Regions from separate parts of the Homo sapiens genome. Here region 2 is linked to region 1. A link means that fine-mapping ties the variant in region 1 to the plasma level of a protein whose gene starts in the linked region. Region 1 holds a variant in brackets. A gene starts in the other region. All regions are shown on their forward strands.

Evidence for each region. A credible set is the group of variants that fine-mapping cannot tell apart. PIP is the posterior inclusion probability: the model's chance that the variant is causal. Protein levels are from antibody-based Olink assays in UK Biobank. Linkage for the fine-mapping came from a reference panel and not from the study's own genotypes, which makes the PIPs less certain.
Region 2: RELB starts here. The variant in region 1 is the best candidate, but not a certain one, in a credible set for the plasma level of the RELB protein (UK Biobank, PIP 0.63).

The regions. Positions count from the first base shown.
Region 1 is chr1:7,794,574-7,797,476 of GRCh38, forward strand. All of the region lies in intron 6 of PER3 (period circadian regulator 3), which reads left to right. Among named protein-coding and RNA genes, the nearest start is that of PER3, 12 kb to the left of the region's middle. The variant T/C (reference allele first, on the strand shown) is at 1,713.
Region 2 is chr19:44,999,980-45,002,882 of GRCh38, forward strand. It overlaps RELB (RELB proto-oncogene, NF-kB subunit), which reads left to right and starts at 1,485. Exons shown (of 12, transcript NM_006509.4): 1 at 1,485-1,706. The coding sequence starts at 1,601. RefSeq lists silencers at 1,309-1,718, 2,039-2,318.

The DNA of each region.
Region 1 (2,903 bases):
CTAGATGTGAAGTACACTTTAAAATGACCATTGTTTTGGGCTCTTTTTTGTTTAGCTTTTTGTTTTTCAGTCACATTTAAAATTAATTTTTGAAATTTTTAATAGCTTTAAAGAAAGCAAGAGATTTATATTTGTGAGAAGGATTTAAAAGATCTAGAGACAGTGAACCAGAAGAAAACAGATGAAAATTTTAACAGTAGTTGATTGCTGGTAGGAATTACTACTGAATTTTTTATCTTCTAAATTTGCTGCAATATATTATTAGTGTTCCTTTTATGTTATATACATAATATATAATTATATATTCTGTTATGTTATATATTATGTATATAAGATGATATAATAATATGTTCTTTTGTAATAAGAACAAATATTTTGAAATGACATTGTGATTGCCAGTTTTAGTATTGAAGTTACTAAATGCTCAAGATGTTTAGAGAGAAGAAAAACCCTCATGATGAAATAGTCTAATATTCCAGTACTCCATGGAACTGGGGGACTTGAGCTCATAGGCTCTGGATGCTTGGGGGGGACGGCCTGAGAAAGGGCACAGCGGTGGGAGGGGCTGTCTTGTTCCAGTGGGTCATTCACAAGTGAGTTGTATGAAGATCTTAGAACAGTTCCTGCCTCCTAATAAGTGCTGTATGTGTTTCTGATGTTAATTAATATTTTGGGGTGCTTTCTCTGAGCCAGGCACTTTGTCAGTGCTGGGATTCAAACAGTTCTTGCCTCACGTACCTTAAATTCTGTGAGGAGGAGACCAATAATAAACACATATTCAAATGCCTGTGTTGGCTGGTGATAAGTTGTGTGTAGACAGTAAAGCAAGGAGCGGGAGTTCTGGGAAGCGGGAGATTGCCGTTGTATTCAGGGTGATCCAGGAACTCTTAGGAAGTCTAATTGGAAACAGCGACCAGAAGGAGGGCAGGGGGTGAGCCACACCGGTATCTGAGGGGTGGCAAGTGTCTGAGAAAGTGTGTTCCAGGCAGAGGGAGCAGCAGGCGCAGAGGCCCTGGGGTGGGCCATGCCTGGCCTGTGGGAGGAGTGACACGGAGCTGCTGTGGCCTGAGTGGAGGAAGGAACGAGGATGGAAGAAGACGGGAAAGCACGGGCCACACCACAGGGAGCAGTGACTTCTGCACGAAGTGTTTTATTTCAGTTTATCACTTGCTTATTTTCAAAACGTTTTACTTTGGGAATTTTCAAACATAACACAAAAGAAGAGAAGATAATGTAATGAACTGCTGCGGTGTCATCACCCAGCTTTTTAAGAACTCGAACCCTGGCCAGTCTGGCGTCATCTCTGCCAGCAGCAGTTCTTTAACCCCCTCTTCCCAGGTTACCAGACAGCGTAGCTCAGATCTCGTCTGATTTCCTGCATCAGTATTTCAGAATGTCATTCTAAGAGAGGAAGTTCTCATTCACGTTTGTGGGGTTCAAAATGGTCCCATCTTTGGCCAGTAGGAATCCCTTTGGGTTGGCCCCTGTACCCTTGTGAGAGTGCCCCATGGTCTTTGACAGCTTCCATTGTTTTAAGCATGAGACACCCCAGACCCATTTTAGACATTCCTTAGCCCAGACTTGGCATCAGCCATTTCTCTAAGGATCCCTGGTTCCTTTTGGTGGGAAATGGCATTCACATTTGGAGGCCAAATCTGGATGGTAGGGATGGTTATTGCTACAGGGTTATCATTGCATCTAGAAATTTTCAG[T/C]GAACAGAGGTAGGAAACGTTCATTTCAGTTTCCTTTTTTTTTTTTTTTTTGAGACAGGATCTCACTGTGTCCCCCAAGCTGGAGTGCAGTGGCACGATCTCGGCTCACTGCAATCTCTGCCTCCTGGGTTCCAACAATTCTCCCACCTCAGCCTCCCAAGTAGCTGGGACTACAGGCATGCACCGCCACAGCTAATTTTTATATTTTTTGTAGAGACGGGGTTTCTCCATGTTGGCCAGGCTGGTCTCGAACTCCTGGCCTCAAGTGATCCAACCTCCTCGGCCTCCCAAAGTGTTGGGATTACAGGCGTGAGCCACCATGCCTGGCCCGGAAACAGTTTCCAATATGAAAGACTGGTGTTGGCTGCAGTGTTGAAGATACTTTGGAGGGGGAAGAAGGGAGGCAGGGAGGGCAGTTAGAGGCTGTTACAGAGGTACAGGCTATAGGCCAGCGTTCCGGGGGGAGGTATAAATATTTGTATATTCTGGATATTTTTTACACTTGATCTTAGCCAAAAGGCCAAGAAGCGATATTCTGGATATTTTTAGAGAACAAATTACCAGAATTTATTAATGGGTTATATTTGGAGTGAGTGTGAAGTAAGAGTCAAGGATAATACCAGGAGTTTTGGGCTGGAGTTATCATTTTTTGAGGCAGACGAAATTCTAGGAAAATCAACTTCCTGGAGGTGGAGAGAAAGAATGTGGTGCTTAGTTTTAGATAAGTTAAGTTTGTGATACCTGTTGAATATCCAAGTTGAGACTCTATGAGAGTCTGGAGTTAAGGAAAACTTTTAGGCTAGAGGTAGATATTTGGGTCATCAGCGTGTAAATGGCATTTAAAACCTTTGGACTGGATGAGCCTGGAAAATGCATTCGTGGATGTGGAGGGAAGCTGGAAGGTGTGAGCATGGATGTGAGCATGGATGTGGGTCGGCAGCACCGGGACACAGCTCACTTCCCGGTGATTCTCTTTTCTTGGTGAAATGGGAAGCAAGGTCATCAGTTGAGGGTGCAGAGTGGGAGAAGATTCTGTAGTGTGTGGTAGAAGAGAAAGAGCAAGGTGGGGCTGGGCGCAGTGGCTCACGCCTGTAATCCCAGTACTTTGGGAGGCCAAGGTGGGCTGATCACCTGAGGTCAGGAGTTTGAGACCAGCCTGACGAACATGGTGAAACCCCATCTCTACTAAAA
Region 2 (2,903 bases), not on the chromosome of region 1:
TACTTCACACAATTGTTGTGAACATTCAACTTACAGAGTTATTTCTTTTTCTTTTTGAGACAAGGTCTCACTCTGTCACCCAGGCTGGAGTGCAATAGCGTCATCACAGCTCACTGCAGCCTCAACCTCCCAGGCTCAAGCAATCCTCCTGCCTCGGCCTCCCAAAGTATTGGGGTTACAGGTGTGAGCCACCGTGCCTAGCCAGAACACCCAAATTTTATACAAGCAAAGGAAAGACAACAAACCCTGCATCTGTGGTCTGAGAGCGCCTGGCATCCAACTTAGAACCTAATAGATCACCTAGTCGTTCTCAGGAATATGAGAGGCTTAGGAATGTGATCTAGCCAAATGGCTGCCCCTCTTTCAGCCTGAGTCCCTTCTGCAATAATCCTATCATATGCTTCTGGCGCTGGTGATAGGGATGAGCTCAGGGTTTAGGCACACAGCTCAGGATGTATACGGAGGCTACACTGCTGCCATTCGCAGACTGAATAACTGAGCTTTTGAGCTCAAAGTGGTCTGGGCTATTTATGGGTAACTTTCAGGGGCTGCAGGGAGGAACAAACCAATAAATAAAACATCCATGCATTCATCCAATAAACTTTTTTTTTTTTGAGATGGGAGTCTCGCTCTGTTGCCCAGGCTGGAGTGCAGTGGCACGATCTCAGCTCACTGCAACCTCCGCCTCCCAGGTTCAAGCTATTCTCCTGCCTCAGCCTCCGGAGTAGCTGGCATTACAGGCGCACACCAACACGCCCAGCTAATTTTTGTATTTTTAGTAGAGATGGGATTTCACCATGTCGGTCAGGCTGGTCTCGAAATCCTGACCTCGTGATGTGCCTGCCTCGGCCTCCCAAAGTGCTGAGATTACAGGCATGAACCACCGCGCCCGGCCTCCAATAAACATTTATTGGGCACCTACGGTGTTCCAGGCGCTGGTCTAGGCGTTGGGGTTACAACAACGCACAAAACATAAATTCTGAAGCTGACACGCTAGCTTTAAACGTTCCTTAAATATCTTCATCCTCAATTTACGGTTGAGGAAACTGAGGTGTAGCGAGACCTTGGAGGTTTCCGAAATATTATTATGGATGGCAGGTGTAGAGCCCTGCCAACCTCTCGATCCTGAAGCTCCCCTTCCAGCCTGAGAAACGGCAGGTTCAAGTCCCACTGGGAGACCAAAGCGGGGAGCGGCTCAGTTTGCCGGCTTGCTCAATGGGTAAGGCGTGATGGCTCTAAGCAGGCCTCAGTTGTCTCGTCCAGAGCAATGGGCAGCGACGCCTGCCCAACCCCTCCTGAGCGCCCAGCCTCCCTTTCCCGGCCGGCCCCGCCCCCGCGATCACGTGACGCGTGGGGGTTTTCCCGTTCCCCAGGCGTGACGTCACGGCGGGGTGCAGACCAATGGGCGCGCAGGCCGGCGGCGCCGGGGAATTCCGCCGCCCCGCCCCCGCCCGCCGCCCGCCCGGCCCGGCCCCGCGCCCCGCGCAGCCCCGGGCGCCGCGCGTCCTGCCCGGCCTGCGGCCCCAGCCCTTGCGCCGCTCGTCCGACCCGCGATCGTCCACCAGACCGTGCCTCCCGGCCGCCCGGCCGGCCCGCGTGCATGCTTCGGTCTGGGCCAGCCTCTGGGCCGTCCGTCCCCACTGGCCGGGCCATGCCGAGTCGCCGCGTCGCCAGACCGCCGGCTGCGCCGGAGCTGGGGGCCTTAGGTAAGCGGGGCTGGGGTTCAGGAGAGGGGTCTGGGGCGGGGCTGGAGATGCGGGGATTCTGGCGGTCCCGGAGTAGTCTGGGGGTTCCTATGGGAGTCTAAGGGTTTCGCGGGGGCAGAGTGAGGGTTCCTGAGACACTGTATTAGGGCGTAGGAAGAAGGCAGAGGGTGATGAGGGGGTACGGCCCGAGGTTCGAGCGAGGCGTCCCGCTGTAGAGTGAGAGGGGGCGGGGCCTGACCCTGAGGCAAAGAAGGGGGCGTGGCCTGACTCAGAGAAGGCGGAGCGAAAGCTGCTCTTGGGCGGTATCGGGGCGGGGCCGGGCCCAGAGAGGGAGAAGAGGGGCGGGATCCGACCCGGACTATGAGAAGAGGGCCGGGCCTGACTCAAAAAAGGAAGCAGGGCCCTACGCTGAGGGGTGAGGGGGCGGGGCCTGGCCGTGAGGGCAGGAAGGGGGCGGGGCCTGAGTTGGCCGAAAGAAGGGGAAGGGGCGGGGCCTGACTCTGGCCGAGTGGAGGGGAAGGGCCTGTTACCCAAAAAAGCAGGGCGGGGCCCGACACAGAGAATGAGGAGGGGGTGGGGCTTGCCTCCAGACGGAGAAGCGGAGCCTTGACATTGAAAAAATTAAAAGTGGTCTGACCCTGACAGGAGGATGTTTTTTTTTGTTTGTTTTTTGTTTTTTTCTTTTGAGATGGAGTCTCGCTCTGTCGCCCAGGCTGGAGTGCAGTGGCACGATCTAGGCTCACTGCAACCTCTGCCTCCCGGGCTCAAGCAGTTCTCCTGCCTCAGCCCCCCGAGTAGCTGGAATTACAGGTGCCCGCCACCACACCCGGCTAATTTTTGTAGTTTTACTAGAGACGGGGTTTCACCATGCTGGTCAGACTGGCCTCGAACTTCTGACCTCAGGTGATCCGCACGCCTCGGCCTCTCAAAGTGCTGGGATTACAGGTGTGAGCCCTTGTGCCCAGCGGGATGGGGACTTTTTAAACTGAGATTGAGATGGGGTCCCCTCCAGGCCCAACTTTAAGGGAGAAAAGGAGCGGGCCCTGAGTGTGATGAAGGGTGGGGCGAACCACAGAAACTAAAGGCCAGGACCTGTCCATGATTTAGCTGGTAAGCCTGGCCAGACGCAGGGGGGCAGTCAGGGCGAGGGGCCTGATCCAGAGGGGAAGGGCTAGAAGAGGAAGGGGTGGGGCTTCC